2 separate regions of the Homo sapiens genome follow, and region 2 is linked to region 1. The links come from fine-mapping of genetic effects on plasma protein levels. A gene starts in region 1. The other region holds a variant in brackets. All regions are shown on one strand. Distances are from middle to middle.

Region 1 (9,875 bases):
TTTCTTTTTTTTTTTACTTTTTGAGATGGAATCTCACTCTGTTGCCAAGGCTGGAGTGCAGTGGCATGATCATGGCCTGTTGCTGCCTCCACCTCCCCAGATTCAAGTGATCTTCCCACCTTAGCCTCCCTAGCAGCTGGGAGTACAGGTGCATGCCTCCTTGTCCGGCTAATTTTTGTATTTTTTGTAGAGACAGGGTTTTGCTGTGTTGCCCAGGCTGGTCTTGAACTCCTGGGCTCAAGCAATCCACCCCCCCGCAACCTCCCAAAGTGTTGGAATTATAGGCATGAGCCACTGCGCCTGGCCAAAATTAATAATTTCAAAATGACACTAAAAATCCTCATTAGTTATTTTGGAGGAAGCCAGAAAACAATACAATCTGAAATGGACAAAGAAAATGTGGGATATTCATGCAAGGGAGCATTATTTGACAATAAAAAGAGTAAAGTACGGATACATGCTGTGTCTTAGTTTACCTGGCCTTCCATAAAAAAATACCATAGACCGGGTGGCTTAAACAACAGAAATCTGTTTTCTCACCATTCTCTGGGCTGGAACTTTGAGATCAGGGCACCAGCATGATTGATTTCCGGTGAGGGCTCTTCCCTTGGGTTGCAGATGGCCACCTTCTCACTATGTACTCACATGACCAGTTCTTTGTGTGAGTATGGGAAGAGACAGAGAGAGAGAGAGACAAAGACAGAGACAGAGAGAGTGAGCGTACTCTGATGTCTTTTTTTTTTTTTTTTTTTTTGAGACGGAGTCTCACTCTGTTACCCAGGCTGGAGTGCAGTGGCATGATCTCGGCTCACTGCAAACTTTGCCCTCTGAGTTCAAGCGATTCTCCTGCCTCAGCCTCCTGAGTAGCTGGGATTACAGGCACCTGCCACTGCGCCCGCCTAATTTTTGTATTTTTAGTGGAGACGGTGTTTCACCATGTTGGTCAGGCTTGTCTTGAACTCCTTACCTTGTGATCCTCCCGCCTTGGGCTCCCAAAGTGCTGGGATTACAGGCGTGAGCCACTGAGCCCGGCCTGATTTCTTTTCTTATAAAGGCATTATCCCACCATAAGGACCCCATCCTTGTGACCTCATCCAAACCTAATTATCTCCCAAGGCCTCATCTCCAGGAACCACCACATTAGGGGTTACAACTTCAACACATGTATTTTGGAGAGACACAAACATTCAGTTCATAACATGCTACAAAATGAATGAACCCTGAAAACATGCTAAGTGAAAGAAGCCAGACATGAAAGGTCCCGTATTGCATAATCAATCCCATTTATATGAAATGTCCAGAATAGGCAAATCCATAGAGACAGAAAGAATATTAGTGGCTGCCAGGGGCTGGGAGGAAGAGGGAATAGGGGGTGACTGCTAATGAGTTCAGAGTTTATTTTGGGGGTGATGAAAATGTTCTGTAATTAAATAATGGTGACTGTTGCACAACTTAGTACACTAAAAACCCACAAAGTTGTACACTTTATTATTTATTTTTATTTATTTTTATTTATTTTTGAGACGGATCTCACTCTGTCACCCAGGCTGGAGTGCAGTGGGACTACCTCGGCTCACTGCAACCTCTGCCTCCCGGGTTCAAGTGATTCTCCTGCCTCAGCCTCCTGAGTAGCTGGGATTACAGGTGCGCACCACCGTGCCTGGCTAATCTTTTGTATGTTTAGTAGAGATAGGGTTTTGCCATATTGGCCAGGCTGGTCTCGAATCCCTGACCTCAGGTGATCCACCTGCCTTGGCCTCCCAAACTGCAGGGATGACAGGAGTGAGCCACTGCACCTGGCTGTTGCACACTTTATTTATTTATTTTGAGACAGGGTCTTGCTTTGTCACCCATGCTGGAGTGCAGTGGCGTGATCATGGTTCACTGCAGCCTTGACCTCCCTGGCTCAAGTGATCCTCCCATCTCAGCCTCCCAAGTAGCTGGGACCACAGGCCCGTGCCACTACACCCACCTAATTAAAAAAATTTTTGTTGGTAGATACGGGTTCTCACTATGTTGCCCGGGCTGGTCTCAAAGCCCTGGGCTGAAGCGATCCCCCGGCCTTGGCCTCCCAAGGTGCTGGGATTACAAGTGTGAGCCATCACACGCAGCCTGTACACTTTAAAATGGTAAATTTTATGGCATGCAAATTATATATTGATTTTTAAAAAGAAAAAAGACTTAAGATGCACATCAGAGATTTAAAAAATAACCAGGGAAAATTGAACGTGGATTCTATATGAAATCATATTAAAGAGTTATTAATTTGAGGGTTGTGTGATGACAATATTGTGATTATATATTTTAAAAATCCCTACATGCTGGTGAAATGGCATGTTTGAGATTTGCTTTAAAATATTCCTGGAAAAAAAAATTGGGGGATGAGTGAAGCTGGAATGACAGAAGAGTGATCATTTTTTTCTTTTGTTTTGAGACAGAATCTCGCTCTGTTGCCCCGACTGGAGGGCAGTGGAGCAATCTTGGCTCACTGCAACCTCCGCCTCCTGGGTTCCAGTGATTCTGCTGCCTCAGCCTCCTGAGTAGCTGGGATTACAGGCATGCACCACCACACCTGGCTAATTTTTGTATTTTTAGTAGAGACAGGGTTTCACCATGTTGGCCAGGCTGGTCTCAAAGTCCTGACCTTTTATGGACAACTCTGTGGAAATAACTTTTTTGTTTTTCTATTGGTATTTGAAGTTGTTTTTTCCCCTTCTCCTTGGAGTTTATTCTGCCTCAACTGATTCACCCGCCTCGGCCTCCCAAAGTGCTGGGATTACAGGTGTGAGACACTGCACCCAGCCAGATTGACAATTTTTGAATCTGAGTAACTGCTATATGGGGGTCTGTTATACTATTCTACCTTGTTTCAGTTTGTTTAGACAACTTCCACTATAAAGGAATGAATTTTTTGGGTAGATGGAAATGTTTTGTATCTTGATTATTATAGTAATTACACAGCTCTATAAATGTGCTAAAAACTTTTAGAAATGTATACTGAAAAGGGTAAAATGTAGTATATGTAAATTAGCCCTCAATAAACCTGAAAAAAATCCCCAAACTAATGACAACTAAATGTTCTAGATACGTTAGTGTTTGTAGTGATGCTGTAACAGCAGGGGAATTGCCAGGGTGAGGAGGAGGAGGAGGGGGAGGAGGAGGGGGAGGGGGAAGAGGAAGAGGAGGAGGGAGGAGGGAGGAAAAGGAGGAGGGAGGAGGGAGGAAAAGGAGGAGGGAGGAGGAATGAAAAGGAGGAAGGGAGGAGGAAGGAGGAAGAGGAAGGAGGGAAGAGGAGGAAGAGGAGGAAGTAGGAAGAGGAAGGAGGTGGAAGAGGAAGGAGGAAGAGGAGGGAGGAGAAGGAGGAGGAAGGAGGAAGAGGAGGAAGGAGGAAGAGGAGGAGGAAGGAGGAAGAGAAAGGGAGTAGGAGGAAGGAGGAAGAAGAGGAAGAGGAGGAAGGAGGAGAAGGAAAAAGGAAGGAGGACGAGGAAGGAGGAAGAGAAGGAAGGAGAAAGGAAGAGGGAAGAGTAGGAAGGAGGAGGGGGAAAGAGGAGGAAGAAGAGGGAGGAAGGAGGAAGACGAGGAAGGAGGAGGAGGAAGAGAAGGAGGAAGAGGAAGGAGGAAAAGGAGGAAGGACAAGGAAAAGAGGAGCAGCAGCAGGCAGCGACTGGGGCTGAGATTCAGGGTGACTGCATAAGGGATTAACTTGAACAACCCGTGTTCTCTCTATAAGGCCCTGCCTGCCTGCTGGGCACCTCTTAGGGTAAGGGCCAGCATTCTTTGGTGACACCATGGATCACACAATGAAGAAGATGCCCAAGTCATACCTGCTCTCCCCCGATGGTGTCACTCTGTAGCCATTTTCCCCCACCAGAGGGGAGACAGGGAGGAGGCGAGGGGATGGAAGAGAACTAAATCAGAGACGGAATTCCAGCCTGATCTGCAGAGCAGACACAATGGTCCAGACCTTGCAGAGTCCAGAGGGGCAGATGGGAGGACCACGCACACACGCTGAGCCCTGTGTGGTTGTCGAATTTTGGGAGCAGCCACCAGCCCACAGGGTTTGAATTCCTGTCACACTTCTTACAAGCCGTATGACCTTGGACAAGTGTCTTAACCTTTCTGGGCCTCAGTTTCCTCATTGATAAACTGAGATTTTGCACTTCCATGAGATTGTTGTGAGAGATTCAGTGAATGTAAAGACCTTAGTCCTGGCCGGGTGCGGTGGCTCACGCCTGTAATCCCAGCACTTTGGGAGGCCAAGACAGCAGATCACTTGAGTCCAGGAGTTTGAGACTAGCCTGGCCAACATGGTGAAACCCCATCTCTACTAAAAATACAAAAATTAGCCAGGCATGGTAGTGCACATCTGTAATCCCAGCTACTTGGGAGGCTGAAGCAGGAGAATTGCTTGAACCCTGGAGGTGGAGGCTGCAGTGAGCCAAAATCACGCCACTGCACTACAGCCTGGATGACAGAGTCTGAGACTCCGTCTCAAAAAAATTTTTTTTTTCTTAATTTTTTTTTTATTAATAGAACTGAGGTCTTACTATGCTGACCAGGCTGGTCTCGAACTCCTGGGCTCACGCAATCCTCCCACCTTGGCCTCCCAAAGTGCTGGGATTACAAGCATGAGCCATTGCGTCCGGCTTGTTTTCGGAGTGGGAGCTCGTCTGCTTTTTTAACCTGTCCTTTAGCCTGAGTCATTCATGGACTCTACCATGGCTCTCGATGTGTGAACTCAAACCACCTGTTCATTCCTTGGTCCTGCTTTTGTTCAGGCCCCAGGCTGCCAGCTGGTGTCATCATAACTCACTCATGGGCCAGGGCCGTTCGGACATCCTGAAGTCATTTCTCACGTGAGCCGTGTCCAGCTGCCAGGGCCGGGTGGTCCTGTGCAGGCCGTGGGTGCGGTGTGCGCTGTGGCTGATGGCTGAGTGGCAGCGCTGCTCTTACATAATCAGTTTCTCTCCTCCTTTCTCTTCCTAGAGCCAGATTTCACACTGAGCAGCTGCAGTCGGAGAAATCAGAGAAAGCGTCACCCAGCCCCAGATTCCGAGGGGCCTGCCAGGGACTCTCTCCTCCTGCTCCTTGGAAAGGAAGACCCCGAAAGACCCCCAAGCCACCGGCTCAGACCTGCTTCTGGGCTGCCATGGGACTTGCGGCCACCGCCCCCCGGCTGTCCTCCACGCTGCCGGGCAGATAAGGGCAGCTGCTGCCCTTGGGGCACCTGCTCACTCCCGCAGCCCAGCCACTCCTCCAGGGCCAGCCCTTCCCTGACTGAGTGACCACCTCTGCTGCCCCGAGGCCATGTAGGCCGTGCTTAGGCCTCTGTGGACACACTGCTGGGGACGGCGCCTGAGCTCTCAGGGGGACGAGGAACACCACCATGCCCCGGGGCTTCACCTGGCTGCGCTGTGAGTACTGGGGGGTCCCTAGGGACCTGCATTGGGAGGCCTTGGCCTAGATCCAGGATCTGCCGTAACCATAGCAACCAGGGCATTCTTGCTGGTGAGAAGTTGCGATGCTTCCCAGCCGGACTGCAGACACCCTCTGAGATTCCCACGGCCGCCGTCTGCCCTGTCTGCCGCTCACTTCGGGCTCCGACGGGCAAGCTGGGTGGGCAGTTCTGGCTGGGTGGGCATGGTCCTCAGGGTGGTCTTAGGTCGGGGCAGGCACTGGGGGTAGGTGGCAGCATCTCACCTTTCCAGGCTTGTGGGTGTTGGGGAGCCCCGGGCGGGCAGCAGCGGCCCAGTCCTGGGTATGGCCGGTGGAGGGGGGCAGGGGCTGGTGAAAGTGTCTAGGGACCCAAGACCCACGGCAGAAGAGCAGCCAGATGCCTGGAGAAGGCAGCCTGTTCCCCTCCAACCCTCCCTCCATAACAGAACAGAATTAAAAAGCAGAAAGATAACACTGTTGGTAAAAAGAAAAATAAGTTGAAATGAGGACAGAAAGGAAAAAAAGGATCTGGAAGCCTCTTATGCCTGCTGGCTGGGAGGCCAGACCAAGATCCCCTCAGTCTCCAAGATCCAGTTCAATTGACTCAAATTCAACACATTTTTCCGGTGCCTCCCACGTGCCCACTGCAGAGTCACTGCCATGACAACAAGGACCTTGCTGTCTCGTGCCTCTGTCTCCAACGCCTGGCACAGGGTTGAGTGCTCAGGAACTGTTGGAGGTTTGGGGTATGAGCCTGCGAGGGATTGAAAGAAGAGTTGGGTCCACCCTGGCCCTTGTGGAAATATACAACAAAGGGTTGGGACATTAAGGATGGGTGGAAGGACCCAGCTGGACCCAATGTTCTGGAAACCCCTAGGTCATGAGAAGCAGGGGTGCAGCATGGGGGAGGGGCTACTGGAAATGGTCTAGAAGGTGGGGTGGTGGTCACACAGGTAGACCTGGGGTCATGAGGCCCATGTTCCAGGAAGAGGGGCCAGTGTGAGCAAAGGTTTGGCGGTGGGATGGTGAGGCCAGGCTGGGAGCTGGTTTGGACCCGGCTGGCTGAGGCCTTGAGAGCCAAGCAAAGTGTGCCTCCCTCCCCATAGCAGGCAGCCCTGGAGGATTTGAGAGCCCGGCGGGGGTGGAATCGTGATTGGGAGTTCCTCTGCTCTTGAAGATCAGTCTGGTGGTGTTTGTAGGAGTTACTGCTGTCACCGTCTGTGCAGGAGGGAATGAGGGTCATTCTGGAGGTGGAGGTGCGAATGAAAGGCAAGGGATGCTGGGCTGGTGGCTCACGCCCGTGATCCCAGCACTGTGGGAGGCCAAGGCAGGAGGACGGCTTGAGGCCAGGAGTTTGAAACCAGGCTGGGCAGCATAGCGAGACTCCATCTCTAAAAAAAGGAAAATTAGCCAGGTGTGGTGGCATACATCTGTAATCCCAGCTACTCAGGAGGCTGAGGTGGGAGGATCACTTGAGCCCAGGAGGTTGAGGCTGCAGTAGCAAGGATCGCATCACTGCACTGCAGCCTGGGCAACAGGGTGAGACCCTGTCTTTAAAAAAAAAAAAAAAAAAAAAAAGGAGAAAAGAAAAAGAGAGAAAGAAAAGCAAGGGAGAGGGGAAAAAGCTCCAGGAGGGGTGGGTCTTAGGACCAGGCAAAGACTGGCTGGGGGATGAGGGAGAGGGAGAGCAGCAGATTGAGGTGGGGGCTGGTGCCCAGGGGCTGGGGTGCTGAGGAAGTTGGGCTGCCATAACCAATTAGAAAGCTTCGGGTGGCTTAGAGCAACAGGAATGTGTCGTCTCACAGTTCTGGAGACCGGAAGTGTGAGATCAGGGTGCCTGCAGGGCTGCGTTCCCTCTAAAGGTGCCGAGAAGGAGCCTCCCTTGCCTCTTCCAGCTCCTGGTGGCTCCTGGCTTCCTTGGCTTGTGGCCTAGTCACTCAGATCTCCCTTTGTCTTTGCGTGGCCTTTCCCTTTGTGTGTCTCTATGTCCTCTCCTCTTCTTCCTAGGACACTAGTCACTGGATTTAGGGAACTGCCTAAATCCAGGATGGCCTAATCTTGACATCCTTCATTTAATAATGCCTGTAAGTGGCACAGGACAGGCGAGCCCCCAAGGGGGCTTAGCCTGCGAGGGTTCTTGGCTTTCCCTAGGAGAGAATTCAAGGCAAGCTGGTGGTAGAAGAAAACAGCTTTACTGAAGAGATGTTATAGCTCTGTGCCAGCTCCTGCAGAGCAGGGCTGTGCCAGAGGAAGCGTACTGAGGAGCAGCTCGGGGCCTTTTGCAGTCATATTTATACCCACCTTTAATTGCATGCAGATTAAGGGGCAGTTTATGCAGACATTTCTAGGGAAGGGGTAGTAACTTTTGGGACATTGGGTCATTGCTATGGAAAGCGGTGGTAACTCCCAGGCGTTGCCATGGCAATGGTAAACTGACATGGCACACTGCTGAGCATGTCTTTTGGAATGCTGCTTCTGCCCCGTCCACCCCTGTTTTCACTAGTCCTCAGTTTGGTCCAGTGTCAGGGCTCTGCCTCTGGAGTCGGTCCTACCTCCTACTTCACAAAGACCCCATTTCCAAACAAGGTCACACTCGGGTTCGGGTGAATGTGGATTTGGAGGAGATGCTATTTAACCCACTGCACAGGTTCAGATTTGGTCCCCGGGGCTGGGGGTGACAAGCCTCACTTGTCACTGCACATAGGGTCAACCCAGGGCCAGGGAACCAGGAAGGGAGTACCGTACTCACACAGATCTTTCTTAAGCCTCCTCTCTGTCTTGCAGGTTGTTTTATTATTTTATTTTTATTTTTATTTTTTGAGACGGAGTCTCACTCTGTCACCCAGGCTGGAGTGCTGCGGCACGATCTCAGCTCACTGCATCCTCTGCCTCTTGGGTTCAGATGATTCTTGTGTCTCAGCCTCCCGAGTAGCTGGGACTACAGGCACCTGCCACTGCGCCTGGCTAATTTTTGTATTTTTAGTAGCGATGGGGTTTCACCATGTTGGCCAGACTGGTCTTGAACTCCTGACCTCAGGTGATCCGCCCACCTCGGCCTTCCAAAGTGCTGGGATTACAGGTGTGAGCCTCCGTGCCCAGCCTGTGTTGTGGGTTCTTACCTCTGGGCTAAGACAAGGGCAGGGTGGGTCTCCTGACCAAGGTCAGGGGTGGCACTGGCTGTGGGGTTCCTGGTGTGCAGAGCATGTGGGGGACAGTGGCCTTGAGGTTGGGGCTGTGCTGTCCCTGCCTGGTCCCTGTTTGTTAACCTGTTTCTCTGGGTGGGTGGAGGCAGCAAAAAAAGAAACTTGCCCTTAGCAATGATGTTTGGGCTGCACTCAGAGGAAGGCTGCCCAGTTGGGGGAGAGGCAGATCATCTGTGGACAGGGTTTCCAGGGCAGCTGTGTGCCCACCGTGTCAGGCTGGGAGGCTCAGTGTCACTCCAAGGCACAGTCCCTGCCTTGAGGCCACAGCTGCCGGGTCCCCAGGGCCCCAGAACGGGACACAGAGAAGGGCAGGTGCTGTAGGGTTGGGAGGTGAAGTAGACGGCCAATGGTGATGGCCACACAGGAAAAAAGACCCAGTGTGGACAGAGGTACTGATTTTTTTAAAGAAAAGCTGAAATTTTGAATTGTTGTGTGAAATCCTTGTGGACCAGAGGTGGCTCTCGGGACACCAGCTTGCAACTGTTGCTCTAGGTCTGTGGTTCCAGACCCCCAGCCACAGCTTTACCTGGGACCTTGTTAGAAAGGTAGACTCTCTGCATCCTAGACTGGTTGAGCAGAGACTCTGGGGCAGGCAGGACAACCTGTGCCTTAACGAGCTCTGCAAGGGATGACAATGTCTGCTCCCATTTCTACTGCTTGAGGCGAATCCCCAAATGCACATGTGAAGTTCTCAGCACGCTGGGCTGTGCAGTGTTTAACTGCGTTATGGATTCACACACAGGCTCACGCCTGTAATCCCAGCACTTTGGGAAGCCGAGGTGAGTGGATCACGAGGTCAGGAGTTCAAGACCAGCCTGGCCAACCTGGTGAAACGCCGTCTCTACTAAAAATACAAAAAAAATTAGCCGGATGTGGTGGCGCGCACCTGTAATCCCAGGTCATGAGTGAATGGGGAAGGTGGTGCTGGAGACAGAGACCGATGGGGGCTGATGCAGAAAGGGGAGACCCTGGCGTGGTGATGGGGGGGAGAGAAGAGTCTCTGGGAGGCTTTGAAAGAGGTCTGTGTTGTGAGAGGGTACCTAGCGCAGGGCAAAGCATGAGCCCAGGAGGCAGGGATGATCTTGACCTGCAAGAGTAGATGCTAAGCTGAGGGGTTCAGGACTTAGGACAGAAAGTAAGCAGATGTTAAAGGGCCAAACACTGGTTCAGTTCATGTTTATCTGTTCTTCTCACCCAATACTGTATCAGGCACAGGGGAAGAGGGAGAGAGGAAGT
Region 2 (8,653 bases), 9.7 kb after region 1:
TGGGTGCGGTGGCTTATGCCTGTAATCCCAGCACTTTGGGAGGCTGAGGTGGGTGGATCACGAGGTCAGCAGTTCAAGAGCAGCCTGGCCAACCTGGTGAAACCCCGTCTGTACTAAAAATACAAAAAAATTTAGCTGGATGTGGTGGCGCACACCTTGTAATCCCAGCTACTCGGGAGGCTGAGGCAGGAGAATGGCATGAGCCCAGGAAGCGGAGGTTGCAGTGAGCCAAGATTGCGCCACGGCACTCCAGCCTGGGTGACAGAGCGGGACTCCGTCTCAAAAAAAAAATAAATAAAAATAAAAATAAATGTCCTGCAAGGCCAAGGCCAGGTGTGGTGGCTCATGCCTGTAATCCCAGCACTTTTGGAGGCCAAGGTGGGAGCATCACTTGAGCATAGGAGTTCAAAACCAGCCTGGGCAAAACAGCAAGACCTCCTCTCTACAAAAAATTAAAAAAAAAATTAGCTGGGTGTGGTGGTGGCACCTGTAGTACCAGTTACTGGGAGGCTGAGGCAGGAGGATTGCTTGAACCCAGGAGTTTGAGATTGCAGTGAACAATGATGGTGCCACTGCACCTGTCTGCCTGGGCGACAGAGCAAGACCCTATTTGAAAAGAAAAACATGAAAAAATCTCCCATAGAGATTTGGTAGTCATGCTATGAACACAGATAGTGTTGAGTCATGCTGTTTTTAAGCTTCACTAAGCATATCTAATTGTTCTCATAGCACAGCCACATCTTTGACAATGTGATTTTTATTGGCTACATGCATTATTATGGAACGTCTAGGCCATTTCCAGATTTTCACTGTTATAAAATAAATGCTGCTCTGTACATCTTTGTTCATAATTTATTGGTTATATCTTTTTTGCTTTTCTTCCAATTTATTCCTAGAAGTGTATTTACTGGGTGAAAGAGTATAGACATTTTTAAGGCTTAGTGGTTTGAAGGGTGCGGATACTACTAAATCGATTAATAACAGAAATTGCTAAATTGCTTTCCAGGACAGCACTTGTCTCACTACTTGGCCAACATCAAGTAGTAATTGTTAAAACGAAATGAGCTGGGTGTATGACCGGGCATGGTGGCTCGTGCCTGTAAATCCAGCACTTTGGGAGGCAGAGGCAGGGAGATCAACTTGAGGTCAGGAGTTTGAGAACAGCCTGGCCAACATGGTGAAACCCCATCTCTACTAAAAATACAAAATATTGGCCGGGTGTAGTAGCCCCTGCTTGTAATCCCAGCTACTTGGGAGGCTGAGGCCTGAGGCACGAGAATTGCTTGAGCCTGGGAGGTGGAGGTTACGGTGAGCTGAGATTGTGCCACTGTACTCTAGCCTGGGTGACAGAGAAAGATTCTGTCTAAAAAAGAAAAAGCTGGGAAGCTGGGTGTAGTGGCACATGCCTCTCATCCCAGCTACTCAGGAGGCCACGATGGAAGGACCGCTTGACACTAGGAGTTTCAGACAAGCCTGGGCAACATAGCAAAACCCTGTCTCAAAAAAAAAAAAAAAAAGCCCCAACAACCCAAAACCACAAACACAAAAACTTTTTCATTTGAATAAAATGGGCCAGGCACAGTGGCTCACACCTATAATCCCAGCACTTTGGGAGGCTGAGGCAGGAGAATTGCTTGAGCTCAGGAGTTCGAGGCAAGTCTGGCCAACATGGCGATACCAGGTCTCTACAAAAAATACAAAAATTAGCAGGCGTAGTAGCATGCAACTGTAGTCCTAGCTACTCTGGAGGCTGAGGCAGAAGGATCGCTTGAGTCTGGGAGTTCTAGGATGCAATGAGCCATGATCCCACTACTGCACTCCAGCCAGGGTGACCAAAAAAAAGAAAAAGAAAAATTATATCTGATTGTTTTAATGTGAATTTATTTATCTAGTTAGTGAGTCTGATATTTTGGGTAGTTGCTGGCCTACTTCTGTTTTATTCTTTCTGCTCTGATGGACTTAACCTTTATTCATATTTGTTGCGAATTCTCTCCTTTTTTTCTGTTCAGTCACATGGAAATCGTATAGGCTGTTTTTGGAGTCACAGTGACCCCCAGTGGCAAAGGATGGTAATGTTTCAGCGGCTCGTTTGTTGCAGGAAGAGAGGCAGCCAAGTATGAGATCTGCTTAACGTCCTAGAATGACCAGACTGGAAGGCGCTACAGACCCGCTGGCATAGTTAGCTGGGAGGGACACTAAGATCAGATAGAGCAGGAAGGAAAGTGGTGTGGGGCGTGGGTGACTGAAGAGTCATTTTATCAAGTTGAAACCAGAATCCAGGATGATTCGATCTCCTGAATGCCGGGCTGGAAAACCCAGCAACGAGCTTTGAAAACATATCACCCGGACACCAGGGGCAGAGGCTGTTCTGGGCGGGAGGTTGTGCCTGCCCCACGGAGCGACAGAAGCGGGGAGACCAGACGTCGACCCTGAGGCGTGCCTCCTGGGGGGCTCCAGTGGCCGGCATGGGGTGGGTGTGGACTCTCTGCACTGCTAGTGCCTGCCTGACCTTGCTGTTCTGGAGCCAGACCCCAGGGAAAGCATTCCAGATCCCGTGCCCCCCACCACACCTTTCCCATTGGTGCTTGTCTCCTATGCAAATGGATGATGGTTGTGCTCGGCTTTGCGTGTTGTGGACGGCGTGGATGAGATGGAGGGTGCTCATGTGCTCTTGTCGGGTGTGGTCCACAGATCTTGGGATCTTCCTTGGCGTGGCCTTGGGGAATGAGCCTTTGGAGATGTGGCCCTTGACGCAGAATGAGGAGTGCACTGTCACGGGTTTTCTGCGGGACAAGCTGCAGTACAGGAGCCGACTTCAGTACATGGTAACCACGTGGGCACCAGCTGTGTCCCTGTCCCCGCGTCCCGGGGTTCACCTGGCATAGGCCTCTGGACATTCAGAGCCCTTCTTAGGACCTGTGTCAGCCCTGAGCCGACCATGGCCTGTTTCTCTGCCTTTCTCCGAAACCTACCCATGCACCTGGTCTGCACTTACTGACCCTCCTCCTGCCATCTCCTGGGGCCTCCACCCCTCCTCCTCGATCTCACTTTAATCCCACCTCCATGATGGCAGTCACCATATGACTCAGGAATGGACACCTGGAGCTCTTTGACAAACCCCAGGCACTTATTAGCCAGGGAGCTAAAGACCTAGAAATCGGAATATTTGGTTCTTTTTGCAGAGTGGAGATGTCTGTGTGGCTCTATGTATCTTTTTTTTTTTTTGAGACGGAGTCTTGGTCTGTCACCAGGCTGGAGTGCAGTGGCTCAATCTTGGCTCACTGCAACCTCCACCTCCCCGGTTCCAGTGATTCTCCTGCCTCAGCCTCCCGAGTAGCTGGGACTACAGGTGCGCGCCACCATGCCCAGCTAATTTTTGCAATTTTAGTAGAGACGGGGTTTCACCATGTTAGTCAGGATGGTCTCCATCTCTTGACCTCGTGATCCGCCTGCCTCAGCCTCCCAAAGTGCTGGGATTACAGGCGTGAGCCACTGCGCCCGGCCCTTTTTTTTTCTTTTTAATTTTTTAACTTTTCCTAAAAATCCTTTTCTTTTCTTTTGAGACAGGGTCTTGCTCTGTTGCCCAGGCTGGAGTGCAGTGGATAATTTCAGCTCACTGCAACCTCCACCTCCAAGGCTCAAATGATCCTCCCACCTCAGCCTCCCAAGTAGCTGGGACTACAGGCATGCACCACCATGCCCAGCTAATTAAAACTTTTTTTTTGAGTAGAGACAGGGGTTCACCATGTTGCCCAGGGTGGTCTTGAACTCCTGGGCTCAAGCAATATGCCCACCTTGGCCTCCCAAAGTGCTGGGATTATAGGTGTGAGCCACCATGCCTGACCAATGTATCTTTTTAAATTAATTAATTTAATTTTTAGAGACAGGGTGTCACTCTGTTGTCCAGGCTGAAGTGTAGTGGCGGGATCATAGCTCAGTGTAAACTTAAACTCCTGTGCTCAAGTGACTGTCTCTCCTCAGCCTCCCAAGGTGCTGGGATTACAGGCGTGAGCCACTGCACCTGGCTTGTGTCTTTTTTATTTTAACAGCTTTACTGAGATATAATTTACATATTTATATATAAAAGACATAATTTACTCATTTAAAGTGCACAACTCAAAGAGTTTTTAGTTCACAGAGTTGTGCAACCATCACCATCATAGGTTTTAGAACATTCTCACCCACAAAATAACATGTTTTTCTTGAAGTAACGTGTCCTCACTCTTGAGCCTGAAATTTCTGCCTTAACAGGAACTGTGTATTTTGTTTCACCCACCCTGAGTCCCAGAGGAAAGTGAAGTGTTTTTATCCCAGCTGGGAGCCAGGCACACCTCTCTGCACAGGACCACCTCTGCCGTCAAAGGTCTGGGCCCTGAGTTCTCTCCTCCTACATCAAAATTCATCTGGAGGCCGGGCATGGTGGCTCATACCTATAACCCCAGCACTTTGAGGGGCTTGAGCCCGGGATTCAAGACCAGCCTGGGCAACAAGAAGAAACCCCATCTCTACAAAAAATAAAAAAATCATCTGGGCGTGGTGGCACACACCTGTAGTCCCACCTACTTGGGAGGCTGAGGTGGAAGGATTGCTTGAGCCTGGGAGGTCAAGGCTTCCGTGAGCCATGATGCTGCCCCTGCACTCCATACTGGGTGACAGAGTGAGACTAACTGTTAAAAAAAACATCATTTGGGAGGTTGGGGAGCCTGCTGGTCATTTCTACTTCTGGCCTCATAGTTTGTTCTTGTGCCTCTCCAGAAACACTACTTCCCCATCAACTACAAGATCAGTGTGCCTTACGAGGGGGTGTTCAGAATCGCCAACGTCACCAGGCTGGTGAGAATCCCTTCCTGGGCTGGGGGGACCCTGCCTCCTGCGACATCCGGTGGGCCCCAGCCTCAGAGGCGCGCTGGGACTGGCAGGTGGTGCTGCTGGCCTGGGGCCTCTCCTCAGCCCCGAGAGCAGGCTGGCCCTTGGCCCAGGCACATGTTTGTCCACTGTCCACAGCGGACGGCCCGCGTCTGCTCCCTATGCAGGGGCAAGTCCCTGGTGAGGGAGTGGTCAGAGCCCAGAGGCCCATGTCTCCCGAGTTGCAGTGACTTCCCTGTTTCCGCAGCAGAGGGCCCAGGTGAGCGAGCGGGAGCTGCGGTATCTGTGGGTCTTGGTGAGCCTCAGTGCCACTGAGTCGGTGCAGGACGTGCTGCTCGAGGGCCACCCATCCTGGAAGTACCTGCAGGAGGTG[G/C]AGACGCTGCTGCTGAATGTCCAGCAGGGCCTCACGGTGAGTTGTGTGGAGGAGTGGCAGGTGGGGTGTGTGTGTGTGCACACGTGTGTACATGTGTGTGAGGTGTGGCCAAAGGCTAGTGAGGGAAAGGGTGAATACACGGAAAGATGGGCACAAGCAGAGGGACGTGGGAGAAGTGGGGGAGGGGTGCAGGAAAAGAGGCCTGTGGAAGGAAGAGGCAGCCGTGGTGGTCATGAGAGCCGGGCTCGGGGTGCAGGCGATGCCTCTGAGACTCTGTTCTAGGCTCTGCCTCTCTCCCTCTGGATCCTGGGCAAGTCATCGTACCCTCTTTGTTTCTGCAACACGAGGGTCCTGGAGGTGGGGTAGGGGGAGAGGGGAAGAATGGATGGAGCACAGGGAATGTTTAGGGCAGTAAAACATGCTGCAGGCCGGGCGCGGCGGCTCATGCCTGTAATCCCAGCACTTTGGGAGGCCGAGGTCAGGAGTTTGAGACCAGCCTGGCCAAATGGTGAAACCCCGTCTCTACTAAAAATACAAAAATAAGCCAGTCCTGGTGGTGGGCACCTGTTATCCCAGCTACTCAGGAGGCTGAGGCAGGAGAATCGCTTGAACCTGGGAGGCAGAGGTTGCAGTGAGCTGAGATTGCACCATTGCACTCCAGCTTGGGCAACAAGAACGAAAAACTCCATCTCAAAACAAAAAACAAAAAACTATGCTGTATAATGCATTCATGTTGTATACATGACATCATGCATTTGTCACAACCCACAGAACTGTACAACAGAGAGTGTGAGCCCTAATGTAAATTATGGACTTTAGTTAATTAAAAAAAGAGGTCCCCCATCCCTGACCCGCTCAGAGAAATTGATCTGAGGCCTCAGGGATATTATCCTCTAAAATGCCTGAGTTGTAGTAAAAAAGGAAGGTGGCGAGATGACCCATGCAGGCCGTGTGTGCGGTGGGACCTCTCCCCGTCTCCACCAGACCTCCTCAGGACTCTGGTGCACACCTGTCCCTGGGATCCACCTGCTGCCCTGCCCAGCCAGCTGCTGACAAGGCCCAGCTTGTCGGGAGAACATCCCAGGCCAACTGTGAGCTTCCGACGGTGAAAGGGCTTAGGGACTAGCACCTGTTTTGCAGCTGCCTGGAGCTTTCCTGGAACCAGACTGGTGGGGAGGCTGTCAATTCCTACAAAGTCAGGAGACTCCTTGATCTGCTTGGTGGCTCTTTTTCCTGTTTATTTCATTTTATTTCTTTTTTATTGTTTTAGAGATGGGGGTCTCGCTATGTTGCCCAGGCTGGTCTTGAACCCCTGGCCTCAAGTGATCTTTCTGCCTCAGCCTCCCAAAGTCCTGGGATTACAGGACTGGGATTACATCCTGCCTGGCCTCTGTGGTGGCTTTTTTTGTTTTTTTGAGGCGGAGTCTCACTGTGTCGCCCAGGTGCATTGCAGTGGGGCAATCTTGGCTCACTGCAACCTCCGTCTCCCAGGTTCAAGCAATTCTCCTGCCTCAGCCTCCCAAGTAGCTGGGATTATAGATGCCTGCCACCACACCTGTATTTTTAGTAGAGACGGGGTTCTGCCATGTTGGTTAGGCTGGTCTTGAACTCCTGGCCTCAAGTGATATGCCTCCCTCAGCCTCCCAAAGTGCTGGGATTACAGGTTGAACCACCATTCCTGGCCGTCTCAGTCTTTTCATGGCCTTCTGCCCTGTTTCCATGTCTGTCACCTTTCTCTTACAAGGACATCAGGCATTGGATTTAGGGCCTACCTGAAATCCAGGATGATGTCCTTCTAAGATCCTGAACTTAATTACCTCTGCAAAGAACCTATTTCCAAATAGGGTCACATTCACGGGTACCAAGGGGTAGGACCAAGACAGCTTTTTGGGGGAGGAGAGGGACAATTTGGCCCAGGACATGTTGCCTTGTTGTCACCCCCTTCCAGAAGATCACCCCCCACGTTTCCCATGATGCTTTCTACAGTGGCCCTGACCTCCTGTTCAGGGACTTGATTCCCTTGGTGCCACGGTGCACCCCACATGACCCTGTTGTTGCATATCGTGGAGAGAAAGCACCCCAGCTTGAAGCTGGACACCCTGCCCTGTGTATGTGACTTAAGCCTCAGTGTCTCTGTGAGGACCTTCTCTTGTTCCTTGGAGTTGATGGAGATGTCTGCTTCTTGAGGGACAGTTTTCCCCAGGTCAGGGGGTCCTCACGCAGTGGTGGGTGGCCGTGCCTGGGTGCAGTTTGCCCCACTTTCCTCACTGTCCTGGTCTACGCCCTTTACTCATTTTTCAAGGATGGAAAAGCGAAGCCTCTGAGTTGTACATGGGTGAGTGGTGGCATCTGGGACCCTCCCCATGCCCACAGGAAGAAGATGGTGAGAAATAGCTATCCAGGCTCATGGTCACAGGAAGTCTGGTCCTTCTTCCGGGGTTTGGGCAGCTCCAGGTGACTGGACAGCCCTCACGGCTCTCCTGGGGTGCGGCCCCATCTCGCCACCGCTCCTGACTGTTTCCTCCTTTCCAGGATGTGGAGGTCAGCCCCAAGGTGGAATCCGTGTTGTCCCTCTTGAATGCCCCAGGGCCAAACCTGAAGCTGGTGCGGCCCAAAGCCCTGCTGGACAACTGCTTCCGGGTCATGGAGCTGCTGTACTGCTCCTGCTGTAAGGAGCTCTCAGGGGATGGCGCCTGGGGGTGGGAGGCCAGGCATCTGGGCCCACCCAGGCCAGCTGGCAGAGCTGGCGTCCTCCCGGGCATATCCTCTGCTCCCCGGGGCTACAAGCCATTTCTGGAAGCCAGGATGGGCCCTGGGTAGAGTGGGGGACAAGCACATGCGGCTTGGCTTAGTGGGGAGGGTGGTCTTGAACACTGCTGCAGTCTTTTTTTTTTTCCCCTATCTCTTGCAGGTAAACAAAGCTCCGTCCTAAACTGGCAGGACTGTGAGGTGCCAAGTCCTCAGTCTTGCAGCCCAGAGCCCTCATTGCAGTATGCGGCCACCCAGCTGTACCCTCCGCCCCCGTGGTCCCCCAGCTCCCCGCCTCACTCCACGGGCTCGGTGAGGCCGGTCAGGGCACAGGGCGAGGGCCTCTTGCCCTGAGCACCCTGGATGGTGACTGCGGATAGGGGCAGCCAGACCAGCTCCCACAGGAGTTCAACTGGGTCTGAGACTTCAAGGGGTGGTGGTGGGAGCCCCCCTTGGGAGAGGACCCCTGGGAAGGGTGTTTTTCCTTTGAGGGGGATTCTGTGCCACAGCAGGGCTCAGCTTCCTGCCTTCCATAGCTGTCATGGCCTCACCTGGAGCGGAGGGGACCTGGGGACCTGAAGGTGGATGGGGACACAGCTCCTGGCTTCTCCTGGTGCTGCCCTCACTGTCCCCCCGCCTAAAGGGGGTACTGAGCCTCCTGTGGCC

Direction of the effects. Positions count from the first base shown, and alleles are read on the strand shown. Strength reflects both the effect of a copy and how common the allele is.
As copies of C replace G in region 2, the plasma level of the protein whose gene starts at base 4,998 in region 1 goes down (strong association).

Evidence for each region. PIP is the chance, under the fine-mapping model, that this variant and not a neighbour inherited with it causes the effect. The UK Biobank Pharma Proteomics Project read protein levels with antibody pairs (Olink). The fine-mapping took linkage between variants from a reference panel, not from the people measured, so its PIPs are less certain.
Region 2: its variant is fine-mapped to the plasma level of the IL34 protein (UK Biobank, PIP above 0.99). The variant lies in the coding sequence of IL34. If it changes the protein, the assay may bind it differently, which can mimic a change of level.

The regions. Positions count from the first base shown.
Region 1 is chr16:70,641,562-70,651,436 of GRCh38, forward strand. It overlaps IL34 (interleukin 34), which reads left to right and starts at 4,998. Exons shown (of 6, transcript NM_001393494.1): 1 at 4,998-5,414. The coding sequence starts at 5,387. RefSeq lists an enhancer at 8,230-8,730.
Region 2 is chr16:70,651,847-70,660,499 of GRCh38, forward strand. IL34 (interleukin 34) reads left to right here. Exons shown (of 6, transcript NM_001393494.1): 2 at 2,692-2,825; 3 at 4,756-4,833; 4 at 5,114-5,275; 5 at 7,772-7,907; 6 at 8,151-8,653. The coding sequence ends at 8,341. Among named protein-coding and RNA genes, the nearest start is that of IL34, 9.6 kb to the left of the region's middle. The variant G/C (reference allele first, on the strand shown) is at 5,240.